Linked DNA regions of Homo sapiens. Each later gene encodes a partner of the first gene's protein in a complex. Each region holds a gene or a part of one and is shown on either strand. Other genes may lie near its edges.

Region 1 (11,855 bases):
AAAGATGTTCAATTCACTTCTCATGCCTGGGGAAATGGGATTTATAACAATTATATCTTTTGTAGTTGGGGGAAGTGGTATCAGAATGCCAAAAATCAAAAGATTGGTAATATCCAATATAAACAGTGCTGGTGAGAACATGAATTGTACTATCTTTCAGGCAATTCAATTTTTAGGAATGTATCCTACAAAAATAAAAGTGTTACTGCATAATGGCCCATATCCATCATCCACCACTGTGTACTAGATTGCCATTCAAAACAGCTAAGCCCGCCCACGTTATCTATAATAGGTGTGAATTGATTTGAATAAATACAGTAGCACTGTGTGGAAGGGAATCATCAGGCTGTCAGCACTGGTCCTTAAAGAGGCAGGACTGGAGGGGAGAAAGAGGATTTCAGTTCTGTATTGCTTTACGCCTCAGTATGATTGATCTGATGGTATCCATGAGCATACACCATTCTTGTGATAATCTTTGAAAACTCTTCATTTTGAGATAATTATGGATTCACATACAGGTATGAGCCATAATGTAGAGATTTCTTTATTCCGTTTCTCCCAATTGTAATATCTCACAAAATTGTAGTACAATATCACAAAGAGGATACTGACATTGATAGAGTCAAGATACAGAACTTTCCACCACAAGACTCTCTCAAGTTGCCGGTTCACAGCCACACCTACATCCCTCCCTGCCCCCTTCCATGGCAGGTGGGCAGTGGGCAAAGTCCTGACTCTCCACTGGGCCTCCTCTGACCATCCCAGTCGGGAGGAGGAGGGAGTACCTCGTTACTGCCGGGTATGACAATTAAAAAGCAAGCAAGGCCGGGGGTGGTGGCTCATGCCTGTAATCCTAATACACTGGGAGGCTGAGGCAGGAGGACTGCTTGAGTTAAGGAGTTTGAGACCAGCCTGCGCAACATAGTGAAACCTCATCTCTACAAAAATTTAAAAAATTAGCCAGGCATGATAGCATGCACCTGTGATCCCAGCTACTCTAGCAGCTGAGGTGGGAGGATGGCTTGAGCCTAGAAGGTCGAAGCTAAAGTGAACTTTAATCACACCATTGCACTCCAGCCTGGGCAACAGAGAACCCATCCCTTATAACATAATAAAATATAAAATAGAATAGAATAGAGCAAACAAAAAATCCCTCTCCATCCCCTGACCTTTAATCCTGTGCCATCAGTGAGCTCTGGCCCGGGATGTGGCTCCCCAGGGCAGCTTCTCCAAAAGGTGATATCAAGGGTGTTACTGGCCTCTTATCCCCCAGCAAATTAATACCTTAGTAAAACAAACATTTTACACGGCACAACCTCATCCCAGAACACACCTGTGAGGCAAGTGGCTCAACAGGTACAGCCCACTGATCAGATGAGAATCCGCCCTCTGAAGCACGGTTCCCAGCTTTGGGCGTCCAGTAACACAAAAGAGTCTTGTGGGGGTGGGGGTGGGGGTGGTCCTCACTTGGTGGGAGAGGTGCACTGTCAGCATCTCCCTAGGTTGTGTCCCAGCTAACTGTAATTCCCTATCAGAGCAGCGTTTTCTAGGTTAAAATAAGGGCTTATGGAGACCAAGCTTTCATCATTCAGGTAAAGCCTCCACGTAGCAGGCTTCAAAGACAACAGAGTGTAAATGTTTCTTATCAGACTTAAAGAGTCTGTTGCTGGCTCACACCAACTCCGCCAGCTGCCTCTCACCTGCCTGAGCAAGTACCCGGTCCCCAGGCCTGGCCCTGCAGCCTCCTTGCCCATTCTCCCTGCCAATCCCTAGGAATCCCACCTGCTGCTTGTTCCTCTTTCTCTGAAACCCAAATGGGAGTTGGAGTTTCCCTAGGATGCCTGAGCAACCGGCGCCTCTGGGGCTCCATGAGTGCGGTCCGGTCCATGGACCGCCCACAATTGCATCATCTCAAGAGTTGAAAGTGCACATTCTCTGCAGCCCCAGATCTTCAGGACCAGAAGCTCTGAGGTTTGGGCCCTGGGAGTGTGAATTCTAGCAAGCATTCTCAGAGCCGCTGGTATTACTGAGTGAAAAGAAACCCTCAGACAGCACTTCCATGGTTTTCTAAAGTGCCTCGTGCCTGCTGGGTGATCCTGTGCCAGTTATTTGACCTCTGTTTCTCTGTTTGACCTCTTTATAGGCATGTGTCTTATGCTATATATGTGTGGCATGTATTTGAGTGTGTGTGTGTGTGTGTGTGTGTGTGTATAAAATATATCAACAAAGAGTCAAACTATAAAATACTTGAAGATACTTACTCTGAGCCAAATACGAGTGACCAATGGCCTGTGACACAGCCCTCAAGCTATCCTGAGAACATATACCCAAGGCTGTTGGGTCACAACTTGGTTTTGTACATTTTAGCAAGACATAAAACATCAATCAATACATGTAAGTTGTACATTGGTTCTGTCCGGAAAGGTGGGACAGCTGGAAGCAGGGGCTTCCGGGTCGTAGGTAGATTCAAAGATTTTTCTGATTGGCAATTGGTTAAAAGAATTAAGTTTTTGTCTAAAGACTTAGGAACGTCTGGCCGGCCGCAGTGGCTCATGCCTGTAATCCCAGTACTTTGGGGGGCCGAGGCAGATGGATCACTTGAGGTCAGGAGTTCGAGACCAGCCTGTTCAACATGGCAAAACCCCATTTCTACTAAAAATACAAAAATTAGCCTGGTGTGGTGGCATGCACCTGTAATCCCAACTACTTGGGAGGCTGAGGCATGAGAACTGCTTGAGCCCAGGAGGTGGAGGTTGTAGTGAGCCAAGATCACGCCACTGCACTCCAGCCTGGGTGACAGAGTGAGGCTCTGTCTCAGAAAATAAATAAATAAATAAATAAATAAATACTTAGAAATTTCTATGTTAAAATAAGGGGTTATGGAGACCAAGGTTTCGTCATTCAGGTAAAGCCTCCAGGTAGCAGGCTTCAAAGACAATAGAGTATAAATGTTTCTCATCAGACTTAAAGGGTCTGTTCTATCAGTAATCCCACAAGGGAGGAGAGTATAATGAGGCATGTCTGGTCCCTCCTTCCCATGATGGCCTGAACTAGTTTTTCAGGCTAACTTTGGAATGCCCTTTGCTGAGAGGAGGGGTCCATTCAGATGGCTGAGGGGATTAGATTTTTATTTTTGGTTTACAAATATATGTTTTAGTGTGTGTATGTATGTATGTATATATATATATGCATATGTCATATATGCTTTAGTGTGTGTGTGTATGTGTGTGTGTGCATGCATGCTTCAGTTTCCTCATTTATTAAAAGCGTTAGTGATAGCTCACCTTGCAGAGTTGTGACAGGGCATAGGATGTCTGTCTAGCACATGATGATTAGGTATGTACACCTTTCTCTTCTCTTTTTCATGCCTATTAACTCACGTCACTTTCCAAGTCAGCAAGTCCTAGATGGATTCCCATTTCCCACAGGGAGCACAGACAGATGTCCTCTCAGGGCCCCTGCATTGACTTGGGGCAGAGCCAGGCCTAAGTCCCAGGCTTCAGACTCCTCAGGTTCTTCTTGCGGACCACCTGTCTAGGTTCTCACTCTCTCCTCGCCTATAAATGTGTGGTCCTAGTAAGTCACTGGAGCTGCAGGCAGCAAGGAGGGTGCTCCAGGCAGCCCCTGCCAGAGGCCAGTCCAAAGCTCCCAGGGCCCAACTCACTGTGGAGGAGGGGGGTGAGATGAGGCATGGAGAGAACCTGTAGCTGGGAGTGTCAAGGGCCAGGGCAATGCCCCCACCCAGCCTCCCACTGAGATAGGCCAGCTCCTGCACGCTCCCAAGGCAGGGGCTCCAGGCCCTCCAGTGTGCCAGCCACTTTATTTAGTATATTGGCCCCTTCTGTCTTTGGTGCAGCCCAGTGAGGTAGGTATTATTACTATCCCTGTGTACCAGAAGCAGCCCACAGCTGGAAAAGAGGAAGAGAGCTTCGCATCAGACCTTCTCATCCCTCGTGGCTTCAACATCAGCCAAGGAGCCTCTTTTAAGAGCTTCCTAGGTTTTTTCACACCAGCCCCAGAGAACCACTGTCCTGGGCCCAGCCCCACACACTTCTCCCCACCCCCGACCCAACAATGACTCTGCTTCGACCTTCACTGATGGGCGTTCACTGCCTGTGCAGACTCCAAGCTTCGAGTGCCTGCTTCTCATGTCCCTGAGCTGAAGCCGCCTTCCCATCACTGCCCCCCCAAAGACATTCACACCTCCCACTGACTTATAGCCACCCTTTGGTGGTTTCAAGGCAGCCCTCCACGGCCCAAAAGAGCACTCACCTAATGACTAGTGGTTCCCAAACTGCAATATGTTCTTGCCAGAAACATGAGAGTTTGTAAAAATGTGCATTCTGACTCGCCAACCTTGGTGGGGAGGAGGCAGGAATCTGCACATTTCACCTGCACCCCGGATCTTGTGACCCACGCATGGGTGACCCACCCATGCACCTGGAGAAATGCTGCCCTAGGGGTTAAACAGCCTCCACTTTCTTCATCTCTCGGGACCCTCGGGAAGGCATTCCACAAAGCAGAGAGAATTCTGGAAAAAGGGCTGCATGCAAGTGCTAACGCAGGGAAGGCAGGGAGGAGGTATCTGCTGTTCACCTCCCACTTTTCAGAAACAAGATCAGTGTGGTGGGCCTGTGCAAGGGGAGAGGTAACTCTGGGAAGGGGCTGAGAAGAGACTGGGACAGCCAGAGTGATCTAGGTGGTGAGGGAATAGGGTGGGAAGGAAGGTAACACTGTAGGTAGCAGGAAGGAGCGGGAATCTTCAGATTTCAGAGCTCAAGGGGAACAATGTGCTCACCAGAGGCCAGAATTTACCCCAGGAGACCAGGATTTTAGGTCCAGCCTTGCTTTGCACCAGCTGAATGACCAGCCCACAAGCATCTCTCCAACAAAGGGCTATGAGGACCAAATGAGATGCTGTTTGGAAAAGTACAACTGGAAAGCATTGTACAAATGCTGGGTATTGCTATTACACTGACTTGGCCAGTTCTTTATTTTACAGATGAGAAAACAGACCCAGAGAGGGCTGGTGACTTATCCAAGATTGCCCAGCTTGCTAGTAGCAAGGCAAGAATAGAGCTCAGATCTTCTGATTTCTGCCCAAGGCAGACACAGTTACCTTTTGTAGATCCCACAAAGGCAAATAATCCCACCTTTCCCTTGTCCCTGGCATGGAAAGCTGGACAAATGAGCCACTCACCCTCTACAGCCTTCAGGGCCCGTCTGGGCTGGGTCTCCAGATGTGTTCATCTTCTCCTGTCTTCTAGATCACAGGTCCCAGAAAGACTGCTGTCCATTGAGCTGCCTGCACTGTGTAGCCACCCCCCTGACTCCTCCTCTTCCTGACTCCTAAAGACCTGCTCACACCCACAGTCCCTCATAAAACTGGTGGCTGAGTTGGTCTAGAAAAATCCCAACCAGGAAGCATGGAATGCAATGGGGCAAGAGTTTTATTAGGAAGGATGAGCTGTCTTCCATCTGGCCCAGTATCTTCTCTTTCCTTTCCTCAAAAATACTATGGTGAAGCTAGGTTATCTAGGAACATACTGTGAAAAAAATCACCAACAACTCCAGGCAGGCCCTGCTTATAAGTCAAGCAAGACTTCGCCAATAACAATAATATCAATTATCAACAAAAATGTTTAAGCACTTACTCTGAGCCATGCACTGTGCTAAGAACTTTGCACGTATTGCTCAGTTTAATTCGTAACACAGCCCTATCTGGTGGGTGTTGGCATCATTCTATTGATTAGGGAAGTGAAACAGAGAGGTGAAGTAATGTGTCCAGTGGGCTCAGCACAAATTTTACAACTACATTGGGCTGACTGTGGAGATTGTATAGTTAACCACCCATGGAGCTATACTCAGTCTCAACATATTGTGTACAACTATATTGAAACAGTCACCTGCAGAGGTTCCTAGCCCATAGAGCCTAGGGAAAAAAGTGGGACCTGCAAGCTATTTTGTTTTAAACTTAAGGGAAATTGTATAATTACTTAGGTAATACTGCTCTGCGATTAAAATTCAAAGTGTTTATACTTTTTGTTTTGCCTGGAAAGAGATCAGCTTTGGCTGATAACCCTGGCCATCTGGTGCAGATTGGGATGTCCTAGTGGTGATTTTAGATGTCTCTGGTTAATTTCCAAAATCAGGGAAATGATTAGTTATCATTATGGTTTTGTTTTAAAGCAGAGTGCTACAAGAAATTTCTCCCAGTATGTGGCTCATGGTGGGGGTACCCTAAAGGGATCCTTTGGTGCTGGCCATGTCAAGTCTTCTGAACCAGCAGGGGCTCACTGGAAGCCTCTTTGCTGTCACTCACATATTTTTCTACCCACAGATTCAGCCAGTTCTCATTTGTTTGGGGCCAGTCCCAAGACAAGTTCTACAGAATTTCAGTGATCTTTTGGTAATCTCTGGAAATGGGGTGCTCCCATGCCTGGAGAGCAGCAATTTTGGAGGCTACTTTGACTGTTTCAATAGTTTTCCTGGCAAAGTAAAGAGAGAAATACAAACACATTTCATTAAATCAGTTCAGGAATAATATGTAGGAAACAGAAAATTCTTTTGAGGAAATAAGCCAAGCAGTAAATATGAATTATACTTTCAAGTTATGGCCAGTTAAGGGAAAAAAGCAAGAATGAGAAGATGTGAGACAGAGCTGCCGGTACCCACTGTAATTGTAACTATCTGTGTGTGTCTCTTTCTGTCCCTCTGGACTGTGAGCCCCTAAAGGCAAGATCTGTGCCTCATTAGTTTTGAATCCCAGGAAACTAGCACAGTGCTCACTATATCATGGGCATTCCATGTATGTTTGTGGAATGAATAAACCTGCCTCAATTCAACAAATACTTAGGAAACACTATATCCAGGCCCTGATTGTATACACAGAGACAAGTAAGATAATCCAGCATGGTAAATGAAGATACAGAAGTGTGTTGTGAGACAGCATTGGGAAGGGAGAACCGAGGAGACTTCCCAGTGAAAGTGACTGATCTGTAGTGGGTTTTAGAACATGAGTAGGAGTTTGCCAGGTGGAAACGGAAAAGGACATTCTGGGCAGCTAGAAGATCGTGTAGAAAGGCATGAAATGAGAATGCATTCTGTGTCCTGGGAACTATAAGCAGTTCAGGTAATGACCTGGAGACGCACACATTTGAAAGCAGAACTGGAGCAGGGAGCAGGAGTCAGGTCATGACAAATTTGGCAGGAAGAGAGCTAAAGGCCTAGGATTACCTAGGAGCTAGGAAGCCAGTAAGCAATGCTAAGCAATGGAGCAACACATCAATACTTGCCAAAGTTCTGACAACAATCTAGTTCATATCCTAGTATCTGGACAAAATGCAAGTTTTTAAAGGGAAGTAATAAACATGAAAAAAAATTTTTTTTTTTTTTGAGACGAAGTCTCACTCTGTTGCCCAGGCTGGAGTGCAGTGGCATGATCTTGGCTTACTGCAACCTCCGTGTCCTGGACTCAAGTGATTTTCCTGCCTCAGCCTCCCTAGTAGCTGGGATTACAGGCATGCACCACCAGGCCCAGCCAATTTTTGTATTTTTAGTACAGGTGGGGTTTCACCATGTTGGGCAGACTGGTCTCGAACTCCTGACCTCAAGTGATACACCTGCTTCAGCCTCCCAAAGTGCTGGGACTACAGGTGTAAGCCACCGCACCTCGCCAGAAAATGTATTTTTAAAAGCGTCTTTTTTCTAACAAAACTTTTGGAAGGAGAGATTTTTTTCTCTCAATGACACTTTTTTATAATTACACAAATTATAAACATTAATTATTAGGCCAAGGTTTGTGGATCACTTGAGCTCAGGAATTCGAGACCAGCCTGGGCAACATGGCGAAAACCCATCTCCACCAAAAATACAAAAACATTAGCTGGGTGTGGTGGTGTGCACCTATAGTCCCAGCTACTCAGGAGGCTGAGATGGGAGGATCGCTTGAGCCCAGGAGGCAGAGGCTGCAGTGAGCCAAGATCACACCACTGCACTCCAGCCTGGGTGACAGAGTGAGACCCCATCTTGATTTTAAAAAATAATAATTATTATTATTTAAAAATTAGAAAAAAAGCCTAAAAGCACAAAAAAAGAGTAAAAATCGGTGTAATCCACTTGCCCAGATTAAAATCACTGCTAAAATGGAATGTTTGTTTATTTCCAGTTGCATGCAGAAGGTAGCCCAGCGTGGGATTCAGAGTGGGGTTGTGTCTGACAAGCTCACTTGCCTGAGCTAGTTTGCCTTGTTGAGGCCGATTTGCCACTAAGGAGGAAGTTGGATTGGGGGGCTTCAGATAGTTCCTGGGGAACAAGGGAGAGTGTGAGTCTCTTCTCCAGCTTTGCCCTGGAACTCTGATCTGAGACCCTGAAGAAAGAAGGTGGGGGGCTCTCCCTAATTTTGCAGGGAATTTGGTGTGGTTCTGGTATTATTTGGTTATTCAGGGGTCGTGAATTTTGGAGGCCCAGGGGAGAGCCCCTGCACTGGGAGGTGCTTTCCAAAGAGACACAAACTATGGGACAATGGAAGAAGAGATCCCCTCCAAAGGCTGTCAGAGTGACTGGATGTGAGTGGCCGGCTTGTGAGTGCCTGTGAGGTGCCTACCCAGGAAATAGCTGGGGAGAACTGACAGTTGGCTGAGGGAGCCTGAGACCCTGCAGTCAGCCAAAGGGGTACATCCATGCTAATGTCCCTTCCTTCACACCCACAAGCTGGAGCCAGAAAAGTAAGAAGTGGTCACTCGGGACTTCTGGTTGAGATGCATCAAGTTTACTCTGAGTTCACCCTTTGAGACCTCCCCATCTGTGCCATACACAAAGCGATGAGAGATAAAGTCTTTTTTTTTTTTTCAGATGGAGTTTGGCTCTTGTTGCCCAGGCTGGAGTGCAGTGGTGTGATCTCGACTCACTGCAACCTCCACTTCTGGGGTTCAAACGACCCTCCTGCCTCAGTCTCCCGAGTAGCTGGGATTACAGGTGCCTGCCACCACTCTCAGCTAATTCTTTGAATTTTTAGTAGAGATGGGGTTTCATCATATTGGCCAGGCTGGTCTCTAACTCCTGACCTCAGGTGATCCACCTGCCTTGGCCTCCCAAAGTGCTGGGATTACAGGTGTGAGCCACCGCGCCCGGTTTAAAAGACTGCCTGCTCTTGAAAAACAGATAAACATCTCTATTGACCAGAGATAAGGCAGAAATATGCAATGGCAAGTGAAACTGAAGCTACAGTTCTGCGCAGCTCCAAGTCCAGAGGCAAGTAGAGGCTGCTGCAGGTGAAGGGATGTGAACCCCTCATCTGAGGGTGCAGCTTGTGGCTGCAGTGAGTGCCAAGAATGAAGTACTCAGACAATTCCAGCTGAGCAGGGCGGGGAGCAGCTCCTCTGAGAGAGTGCCGCTCCAAGGTCTGTCCACCGAATATTTATTGAGAGAGCTTGTTTAAACTACAATTCAAACAAAAGGCATCCACCAGGCGGCTCTTTGCAGTTGGGCCATGAGGCACATATGGCCTTGGAAATACACATAGACCATAGTCTCAGGAGGCTGTTTTCAGCGCTCCTTACTACACATTCCTTTCCTTGCCCTGTTTTCAGGGTCAAGGAGTTTCAGTCGCATGCACAAACAACATGCACACAGTGCCTCGGTACTTTTCCATTCCTCGACCTCAAATGCCTTGTACATAAGCTTGAATATATTGCCATGCACCCTCCACAGAGGGGACCCTGCCTATGGCAGAGCACTGAAAAGAGCTAGGACTGGCCATTGTTGGGACAATGATTTATATCTTGTATCTAGGAGAGAAGAAGAAATTCACAAAGCCTGATAGTGAAGAAGTAGACTAGGCCAACTGCTCCTTGGTGATTGGACCCACAATAGCCTCAGGATTTCCATGGACAGGAGCCTTGAGACACCAATACAAAGCCAGAATTGAACTAGGGAGCCCAGGAAGTGGGGTGAAAGCTACCGCAAAACTTTTAGATGAGGACTGAACACTAACATGCACATGCCTCCACACACACATGCACGCATGCATACCCACACATGCACTCACACAATTACCATTCAAGGTGAACCAGTAAGCTGGCATTCCAAAAGATCTGAAAAAGAATATCAAGAATGCTAAGAAAGACAGCCAATCAAACCAAAAATAGGGAGAAGAACTCATACTTTAAGAAGTGAAAATCATAGACTTTAAGCATGTTTAGAATCCTCAAAAAAGAAAGGAAAGAAAAACATGCATTAAAAAAATAATAAGAACTTATAAGATGGGCAGCACTGAAGTGAAACAGCCAGTCACGAAAAGATATTGTATGATTCCAATTACATGAGGTACCTGGAGGAGTCAAATTCATAGACACAGAAAGTAGAATGGTGCTTACCAGAGGCCGAGGGAAGAGGGGAATGGGGAGTTACGGCTTAATCATACAGTTTCAGTTTTGCAAGACGAAAAAAGTTCTGAAGATAGATGGTAGTGATGGTTGCACAATGTATTAATACAACAAAACCAGGAAGTATTAACTTTCTGAAGCCTTTTGACATAGCCAAATAGCTTTCCAAGAATTCTGAAACAGCTGAAGGTGAAAAAAAAAAGAAACTATTCTGGCCGGGTGCAGTAGCTCATGCCTGTAATCCCAGCACTTTGGGAGGCTGAGGCAGGTGGATCACCTGAGGTCAGGAGTTTGAGACCAGCCTGGCCAACATGGTGAAACCCCATCTCTACTAAAAATACAAAAATTAGCCAGGCATGGTGGCATATGCCTGTAATCCCAGCTACTCGGGAGGCTGAGGCAGGAGAACTGCTTGAACCTGGGAAGCGGAAGTTGCAGTGAACCAAGATTGTGTCACTGCACTCCAGCCTGGGAGACAGAGCAAGACTCTGGCTCAGAAAAAAGCTATTCTGAATAAAGTGTTTATAAACGATATGTGCACAGGTGTAAAGTAGGCTCACTTCTTTTCCCGATCTATCCATGCTGAGTCCAGGGATAGAGAATGATTTCTATGCCCTATTTCTTAATGGACTCCACCCTAAACTCAGTAATTTTAGCTAACAACAGCTAAGTTTAAAAGATCACCTATTGAACTAAAATACATATTTCTGGCATTTAACTGGCTATCTGTAAACACTTTTATAGGAGAAATTTAAATCTATGAAGGAAATTTCCATTTGTAAAGGTGTCTGAGAGGGAGGCCTGGGTCACTAGAAACTGTTACCATTGTTTGAAATTTACATGACAGGTCTTTGTTACGGCGCCTATCCTGGCCATCTTGTCTTAACTGGGCCTTTACATGCAACCTTTTTTCCTTGGTTTAAGCAAATGATGGTACAATATTTAGGCCCAAACAGAGCTAAGAACAGGTCTTAGCTCTATTCTTTTGAGATATACATTTTCTACCTTGTTTAACCTGTTGAGTCATCTTTTTAAAAGGCAAATTGTTGCATAGCTAACAATTGCTTAGGGCAATAAAACAAGTAATTAAAAGATTAACAGTCTAAATGGGGACAAAAACTAAAAGCTGGCAAGTAAGAATTACTTATAAAAACTATAAGATCTGCTTCTGTTTGTGTTTGTATGACTATATGTCACTATGTGGCATGTGTATATGATAATATTTGATAAATAAAGCTAGATTTTAAATGTTAGTAAAATAGAAATGGCTCCAAAATTATCAGTTAAATATAATTCAGACATTTTTGCCTGGGTTTACTGGTCAGACAGGCTTATGCTGCCTTTGTTACATGTTTTAAGGTCATAATACTACTGCTTCTGTAATATTTTTGATATTTGTTTGATTTGACTTTGAGCTTATATTTTGAGTTTTAAACACCTGGATTCTGAATAGGTCATCATGGTGAGGCC
Region 2 (9,340 bases), on another chromosome or scaffold:
TATGCTTGAAAACAGCGTGCAGTCCTAATGTTCAAGAACCACGACCACATAAAAACATTGCTCCCCTTCTGCTGCTTTGAAAACGACCCCTAAATTCCGTGTAGAAGTTGCCAGGTCGTCTTGACGTACACTTCGTTTGTATGATGTTTGTCTGTCAAATACTGTGATGGAAGAGTGTATGCGGGGGAGGAGCAGGGAATTTTTAAAAGCATTTTCCGGTCACCTCAGACTGGGAGATCATGTTCTTTCCTGAAAAAAAAAAAAAAAAACACCTAATGAGGGCGGTGATCTGTGATACTTACTTTGTGGTTCCTCCTGCCAAGTGGTTACAGCGATGGGTGTGTCCAGGAGGCAAGGTGACATCTTAAACAGGAGTTAGGGATCCTTGCCAACTGAAACCTCCAGCCTGTATGGGTGTGGGGAGACGATTTCACCTTAAATAAAACTAGCGTTCATTGACGTTTGATGGATTTGCTTCATCTTGATGCTTCAAATGTTATTCTGAATTTGAATGTGCTGGTTACATTTGCTTTCTTAAAGATGTAGTTACAGGCATATGTAATAAACATTACAAGTTGTGGAGTAAGCTTTTTTTTTTAAATAAACGAAGGGTAAAGTTTTCTTTAATCAGTTTTGATAATTGAATCAGTAATTCGAATAGATTTTTTCTTGGTAGAGTTGGTATCTACGCATTTGTGGTCCCTTGCCCAGTGTTAAGCTTTTGTAGTTACTGTTTGCATCACTGGTGCTTTGGGGGTTTTCTGTTAAATTGACAGCTCTTACTATAAGAGACAAAGTCGAAAAAAAAAATCTTAATAAAAATTGACAGATATCATTATTTGTGACAGATACAGTAAATTTGAAAATTGCCTTCACATAACTTTATAATTAGAGGACTGAGATTTTACATTAGGAATCCAATTAAAAAAAATTAGCCGGACATAATGGCCTGTGCGTGTAGTCCTGGCTAGTCAATGGGCTGAGGCAGGAGGATCATCTTGGGCCCGGGAGTTGGAGACTGTAGTGAGCTATGATCACACCACTGCACTCCCTGGGCAACAGAGTGAGACCCTGTCTCTCAAAAAATAAAAAAAATTAGGACCCCAAGTTAAAGTATAAAAAATTTTATACGGAAGTAAAGTAAGATTGCTCATGTAACTCTTGAGTTTACATGTAATCAACATATGCTCATTGAAAACGGGATTGCTTCAAGAGGACTTTGAGTGCAGGGTGATTAGGTAAGTAAAAGATGTAAAAAGGTAGAAAATTTTTGTCACTTGAGTCTAAATAATTGTTCTTATAAGTGCCAACGCCTGTTTCTGTTAGGCTCAGAAGATCAAAGGATTTGGCTCTTTTAAAATATAGAAAGCTCTAGCTTCAGCTAGAATTTAGGCCTTTAGTAATAGCCCTAATTTTTATGAAGCCATTTTGTTCCAGTGATCTTTTGGTGAGAGATGCTATGTAAGTACTATTCTTCAGAATTAGGTGTCTTTTTACCCTAATGAAATAATTTAGATTGCTTTTGATACAGGTAAAACAAATATCCTGGCTTCCATAATTGTAGAAAAAACTTCATATAGGAATCCTTGTTGTATCAAAGTAGCACCTGATGGGAATGAACAGACAGGAATGGATGAAGGATAGCAGTTTGCGTTCCATTTCAAGCCTATGGGCTCACACATTTATTCAGATAAGAACACCACCTTTCACTAGATAAACTCCAACAGTATTCATGCATACTTTTGAATGGCATGTAGGAAATGTTTGATAGGTACATAATGTATTCACTTCAGGTCACTAATGTAATACGGGGTCGTGCTCCTTAGTGTTGACAGATCACCTATGGTTCTCCAAAATGAACATTCTAGTACAGGAGGTCTAGGGAGGAACCTGAGAGTATACTAATGCCTAGGAACTTTCTCTGGAGTGGCAAGAGCAGTGGGAAGAATTATGTCAATAGCTACAGAAATAAGGGAGTAAGAACAAGTCATCTCTCTAGTGAATTCTTCTTCACTTTACTGAGATAAACATACATGTTAATGAGCTTGAGTTTTCCCAAAAGTATAATTCTTCTGGTTCTTCTAAGAAAATGGCACTCCCTGGAAACAAGGAAGAACCAAATTTATTCGCCTTTGTAGCAGTTGGGAAAGTTAGTGCTAGGAAGTCTTCTTGATTTATAGTAGGCTTTAATCTGGATATTGCTGGTAAAAGTTTATTCTAAAACCTGAACTCTGGATAAGTAATACAAAAAGCTTCTCAACCTTCCAAGCAAAATTGAGAGCTTTCAGGTTATGTGAGTAATTTGGTCTCTTGGGTGCTTAATTCATTCCTTGAAGCTCATTTTTGTGATCTCTTCCAAGATTGCATTTGCTTGGAGGTAGGGAGTTAGACAAGATGGTATGAGGTCCCTAAATTTTGACTTTCCAAGCAAAATTGGACAGTGGTTCCTAAATTGCTAACATCCTCGTTTCTTCCTAAGGCTTCTCATGTTTCATATATAGTAGCCTTCCCAAAGTCCCATTTCCCACCCCCCCCCCCCCCCCAACCCATGTAGAGAGAACGAACCTGTCTCCCTTCCTGTACAGAGTACGGGATCCTTCAACTTTCACACAGGCTGCAGTGTCTGCCACACATTTAGCTCAACTTTTTTTTAGCCTTAAAGTGATGTCCGCTGCATCTGTCGCTGGGTTGCACCTTGTGGATTTAGTTTGCATAAATTTTCTCAGCTTAAACAAAGTTAACATTGAATAGAGTAAGCTTACCATAAAGGGCTTAATAAATGCCATGCATGTCTACATTCGGTGTGGAAATTGAGCTAGTCAGGTTGATATTTAACATTGTAGGTTCTTTGTTAATTTATATGAAATAATGGTTATCATTTAACTCTTTAGGTTAGCTTTGTACATAGCATCTCACTTTGCACAACAACCCTGCAAGGTAAGTATTGTTATTCTTGTGCTACAAATGAAGTTGACTGAGAGGAGGAGTACCACGTCCAAGGTCACACAGCTATTAAATGGCAGGGCTGGGATACTGGCCTGTGACTCAGAACTTGATGCTTTCCCCCCACGCCACGCATGCCAGGTTGCCCTTCCTTTCAGAAATGGTGGAAGTCCTGCAAAATGCAATAAACTGAAGTAATGTAGCTTCTATTAATACAAAGTAAATAACTCAGATTTACTGGATTTTAAACCTTATTCCTTGGGTAAACAATCTGTGACTGACTTCACACCAAATATTTGTTGGCGGAGGATTTGGACTTTAGGGATAAAAGTGGATACATTTTTTATTTTACAAACTCTGTATTTGAACTTAATTATTGGCTCTTCAATTTTACGTTACCAGCTTTTTTTTTTTTTTTTTTTTTTAATGAATTTGATTTACATCATGGTCAAACAAAAATTGTTGAGCAGGGAAAATAAACTGCTTTCTGGATTCCTTCTTGAATTTTCTCATGTGCCCTAGAGAAAATGTGTTCCACATTAAGGTGTTACTTTTTCCAGGGGTGTGTTCATTTAAAAAGAATGAAGCCAGGCAATGTTTATTTTTCTTTTACCTATAAATAAATGAATGGATTAATCATTGTATACTTGACTCCCATGTTGGTAGGGATTTTAGATAGGAGGCTATTTCTTGTCTGTGCTTCTCAATACCCCATAAGCAGTTGCTTCATGGATGTATATACTAATAAGCAGTGAAAGAAAGTGCATGTTCAAAGAATACAACAAGGAGTCTGGATATTTTGCAATCATCTTTATATATTACGGTGCTCTGAATTAAAAGCTAAAAGTTACTGGGTATGTCTGACACCTTAGTGCTTTATCTTTGTTCTACTAATTTTCTGTGCCCCAATCCCACTTAACCCTAGCCTCATTCCTTATCTGTAAGATAGGGGATAATACCACTGTAAGGTTATTATTAAGATTGAATAAGGATAAAATTTATAATGGGTTTTAGCAAATGGCAGAAAATATTTTCTGAAGAAAACCAAGTGCTATTAAAAAAACATCACAAGCCTTGGGCTTACTTTGGGATTTTAAAAACCAAGAGAAAATGGATGGCTGAACTTTCAAACATTTGGTAAATATTATAGTACTGTAGTTCAGAGCTCTGGATTCTTTGCATTTTGCCTGCTGGGTGAGAAGGAATAAAAGTTTGTGCCTTTTTTTTTTTTTAATCACTTTAATTTCAAAACAATGTGTTTAACCATTTGTGGGAGTAATTTTCATTTTGTGAGCCTGAAGCATTTTGATTCAGTGGGAATTTCTGGTGATTTATATCTGGAATAGAAGTGAGCTTAAGTTTAGCTATTCTAACGTTGAAAAAGGAAGCAATGTTTCTATTGGATTCTAAAGTATATTTTCAAAAATATTCTGAAGTATTTGTATATCTTAAACTTGGAGTTAAGACAGCTTAGCTTTGAAGATAAGAGAAACTAGATGTGTGCATTTTCTATCCAGATGTGTTTGTTGCTGGAACTAAATGAAACAGTACATGGTAACCCTTGAAAGGTTTTAAACTTGTTTCTGTAACTGCTAATCTACATACTCTCAAGTCACTAACCTTCCTCTTTGATCTCTTTGTAGGCTGACCAACTGACTGAAGAGCAGATTGCAGGTGAGAAATACTCAGCTAGATTGTACCCATTAGATTCTTATTATAAATTGAATAGCCAACGTCAGAATAAGAGACTTGTATGAAATAATTGACTTTGGTATATGTCATGGATACTAACATATGGGTATAATATAATACAGTAATTCAACCTGCTTTGGCAAGTGGGATTGTAAACTTGCCGATGGAAGATGTGCAGGGCTAATTGTAGTTAAAGACATGTATTTTAGTCTGCGTGGATATACTTTGGAGCCTTGTGGTGTAGTGGTGGTCTTTGTTTTGTTTTCTGAAGACTACCTTAGTATAAAACAGGAATTCTGGGCTAGCTAACACGCTAGAAAAGGAGGCCAAGAAGTAACTAAGGCAACTTGAAATGGAGAATCAAAAAAGGAACAATTGAATTTACCCTAGTTAAAATTAGCTAACATTTTAACCTAAGAATTGCATATATAATCAGTCAGGGAATAACCATTTCTCAAGTGAAAAAATTTAAGAAGTTGGCATTCTATTCTATAAATGTCACTGTAGCAATGTGGATTTTTCTCTTAAAAAACAGTGACAGCTGTTGAAATGAAGCCGCTTAAATCTTGTCCCTTTTAGTTTGCTATGGAAGTATGCAAAATTATTACATAAAACCTGATGTCATGTTCTCTTTATGCCATGCCATAGAACATTAATACTTTTGATTTATCCTTGTACATTGAGATGGCTGGTTAATGTCAATGTTGGGGAAACTTTTTTTTCCCCCCTTGCCGGAGTTGTTTTTTTTTTTTATTGTAGTGTTGAAATGCTTTGCAAACTATTCCTTTGTTTTCATTAGACACTTTTATTAGCATGAGCACCAAGCAGTTTATTTGCCACAGTTTTCACAGTAAGCAGGAAGGGTTTGATAAGAGCTCAAAAGCACTTGAGCACTTTTTCTTAGGCTGGAGAAAACTGAGAAGCCCAGTTGGAACTATATAGCCCATTTAAAGCAAGCTCCCCACTTCCATAAGCATATAGAAGTTTGGGGGATACCAGAATTACACTAGTCACCTCAAATACTATTTGATAGGACTGTAGGTAGAAAGCTATTAGTATTAAAGACAAATTTAAGCAGGTTTTATTTTTATTTATTGTGTAATTTGACTTAAACTTAGTTTTTACTTTCTGAGGTTGGTAAATTACATGTATTGACTGTTATGAACAAAAAGCAAACAGTTTTGGGAATAATTTTTTTTTTGTTGAGTTACACTGTTTTAAAGGTATCACCTATTTGATCTCATGTCTCCTCAAAAAAAATAGACTGGGCCTGATGGCTGGTAATCTTATCACTTTGGGAGGCTGAGGCAGCAGGATCACTTGAGCCCAGGAGTTTGAGACCAGCCTGGGCAACATAGTGAGACCCCATCTCTACAAAGTAAATGTATCGTCAAAATGTTTTTCTGAAGTAGTTTTTTTTATAAATATACTGTCTCCTTCCCAAATTGTCTCAGGCTGTCTAATACTTTCACTCTTAAACTCTGACCTTCTGTAATACATTTCTTAATATTCCCAGTCAGGTACAGGTACCAACTGTATGCAGTACAGCATGTTCACTTTAGGGTAGAAAACGTTACTCAGTGTGCCATTGCATAGTTGATGGTCTGCTCTCTTAAACAACTCTTTGAAAAGAAAGTTTGTTGGCCGGGCGCAGTGGCTCACGCCTGTAATTCCAGCACTTTGGGAGGCCGAGGCGGATCACTTGAGGTCAGGAGTTCATGACCAGCCTGGCCAACGTGGTGAAACCCCATCTCTCCTAAAAATACAAAAATTAGCCAGGCATGGTGGCGTGCACCTGTAATCCCAGCCACTCAGGAGGCTGATGCAGGAGAATCACTTGAACCTGGGAGGCAGAGGTTGCAGTGAGGCAAGATCATGCCACTGCACTCCAGCCTGGGCAACAGAGCGAGACTTTGCCTCAAAAAAAAAAAAGTTTGTGTCTATTGAATATAAGAGGATCCCTCTTCAGTGATTGATAGCATTTTTATTTTTTAATTTATTTTGAGACAGTTTCACTCTTGTTGCCCAGGCTGGAGTGCAGTGGCTCAACTTCTGTCTCCCGGGTTCAAGCTGTTCTGCTTCAGTCTCCCGAGTAGCTGGGATTAGAGGCATGCACCACCTGGCTATTTTTGTATTTTTAGTAGAGATGGGGTTTCTCCATGTTGGTCAGGCTGGTCTCAAACTCGCAACCTCAGGTGATCCACCCGCCTCAGCCTCCTAAAGTGCTGGGATTACAGGTGTGAATCACCATGCCTGGCCTGGTAGAATTCTTATAAAGAATACTTGTAGTTCATCAAAACTGTGACATTCAGGACCTGTTCTCTTTATTGTCTTTAAGTTAAATCCTATCTTTTCTTGGCTTTCATCATAAAATTAGGTTTCCAATGGGAGTAGAGGGAAAAAAATCTGTTCTTAGGTTCTCTTCTTATCCTGCCTTTTCCTAGACCACAGATTTCTTTAAAGCCATTCCTTGGACCTCCAGGTTTCAGTTAAGATTTAGGGCAGAGGAACCAAAACTTCTATGCTACTAAAATAAAAATCATGTGCGGTCAGGGACCTTTTTGTTCTACTTTGTAGGCCCGGTACCTGCCACATAGTAATCATTGAATATTCCTTGAATAAATTTTATTCTCAATGAGTGTGTAACACAAAAAAGTTCTAGAGCACTACTATCCTAAGATTTCTGCCTACTCTCCAAGTCCCTTCCTCCCAAATTTGGTATATTTCAGTGTTTACCTTTGAGATGAAGGCAATTTTTTAATCTGGTAAATTGTAATTGTTGGTGGCTGGGCATGGTGGCGCATGTCTAATCCCAACACTTTGGGAGGCTGAGGCAGTGGGATTGCTTGAGCCCAGGAGTTCAAGACCAGTCTGGGCAACACAGCAAGACCCTGTCTCAAAGAAAAGAAAAAAAAATTTTTTTTTTTTTTTTTTTAGTTGTAAGTGCTGGTGACCGCTAACATCCTTGTGTAGATGAAGTTACTAAATTTTTTTTTTTTTTTTTTTTTTTTTTTTTTTTTTTGAGACGGAGCTTCACTCTCTTGCCCAGGCTGGAGTGCAGTAGCATGATCTTGGCTCACTGCAACCTTTGCTGTCCAACTTCAAGCAATTCTCCTGGCTCAGTCTCCCAAGTAGCTGGGATTACAGGCGTGCACCACCACACCCGGCTAGTTTTTGTATTTTTAGGAGAGATGGGGTTTCACCATGTTGGCCAGGCTGGTCTTGAACTGCTGACGTCAGGTGATCCGCTTACCTTGACCTCCCAAAGTGTTGGGATTACAGGCATGAGCCACTGCTCCCGGCCTAAAATTTTTTATATTACTTGGTCGTATAAAGCATTCCAGTCTAGTATGACATCACTAACAATTTCATTTTGTTGATAACTCTGCCATGATGTCATTAGTTGTTGCTGTTTGACTTTTGGAAGACTGATAGGAAAAATGTACAGTATTTTTTCCTTAAGAAGTCTGTACCTAAACTTTCATTAAATTTTCAAGGTCCAAATTTGTTTGAGAAAAATATTAATATTACTCAATGTATAGCAACAACTGCATGAAGCGCCAAAAGAGTTCCAGTACATGATCTTTAAGGGATTATTAAGTTCAGAATTTTGTGAAGAAATAGAAGTTAATAAACAGTCATTTGATTTGTTTTGTAATTGTCTTGTGATAACCTATTTTAATAAAATTTTTAAAACATGTTATTTTAATAAAATTATATGTTTAGGTAATAAACTAATTAGGGAAGGGCCTTGGGGTTGCTAATGAACAAATAAAACTTGAGTAATAGATTTTTCTGAAAGTTTCAGTTTGGTCAGCTAAAATGGATTTTGGTAGGTTCCTTATATCTATCAATTATGTAGAAGATAGCTGTTCTGTGGCATTCAGGACCTGTTCTCTTTATTGTGTGTTTAGGTTTTGACTCTTGGATTTAATTTCAGGTCATTCCTGGGAGTTACAGTTTAGAATTATATGCTTCTATACATAAAGATTACGCTAGTTCTGAAGTACAGGAAAACTGTAAAGGCAGGTGAATTAAAATTTTACTTTGGGGTTTATTATTTTGAGTTTTTACAGGTATTTTTTACTCTTTAGTATAAAAATACAAGTAAAAATTTGGAATAAACCTTGACCTTTAAAAGAAATGTTATTTGTTCCTTTCTTGAATGAATAACAAATGGTATTAGCATAGATACGGTTTTATTTTCTGCATTTTACTTATTCTAGCAAACATTTTAAGTGTTATTAGATTTTTAAATTTCTCGAAAGTTATACATAGTCTTACACTATGCATCTTCCAGTATTTAGCTTTTTGTTAAATCATGTAATAGAAAGGTGATTACTGCTAATTAAACATTGGGAATTTATGCACCTAATGGTGGTGTTAAAAGATACCCATAGCAGAGAATGTAATATAAACAAATACCTCAAAGTCCTTTAATTTTCTTGTAACCTAAATTAGGTGAAAGGTGCAATGTGTCTGAACTCCAATATATGTATTTCTAGATATTTCTACATTCTGTTTAAAAACAGTAAAATTGAAATGTCTTTATCAATTGTGCTATTTGTAGGTGGAGACTCCCTGATCTATTTTTGTCATTAGGTTGATCTAGGTTAGCACTGTATACTATCTTCATAAAATCAATTAGTGTGGTATGAACCTTCTGATTGGTATTAGATGAGTTCCTCTATAAACCAGTAATATT

The links.
Region 2: the proteins of NOX5 (region 1) and CALM2 are in contact, whole or in part, in a crystal structure (PDB 6SZ5), measured with the Homo sapiens proteins. Residues at the interface, in NP_078781.3 of Homo sapiens: Trp720, Ser721, Val723, Phe724, Val727; in NP_001734.1 of Homo sapiens: Glu12, Phe13, Ala16, Phe20, Leu33, Met52, Glu55, Val56, Phe69, Met72, Met73, Lys76, Met77, Thr80.

What each region holds. Positions count from the first base shown.
Region 1 is NC_000015.10:69,008,131-69,019,985, reverse strand, and holds the start of NOX5 (NADPH oxidase 5), read right to left. Parts: upstream 5,292-11,855; 5' UTR 5,251-5,291; coding exon 5,201-5,250; intron 1-5,200. UniProt on the Homo sapiens protein: Calcium-dependent NADPH oxidase that catalyzes the generation of superoxide from molecular oxygen utilizing NADPH as an electron donor. May play a role in cell growth and apoptosis.
Region 2 is NC_000002.12:47,166,011-47,175,350, reverse strand, and holds part of CALM2 (calmodulin-2), read left to right. Parts: intron 1-1,143; exon of another isoform or gene 1,144-2,891; coding exon of another isoform or gene 2,892-2,937; exon of another isoform or gene 2,938-4,586; coding exon 4,587-4,617; intron 4,618-9,340. UniProt on the Homo sapiens protein: Calmodulin acts as part of a calcium signal transduction pathway by mediating the control of a large number of enzymes, ion channels, aquaporins and other proteins through calcium-binding. Calcium-binding is required for the activation of calmodulin.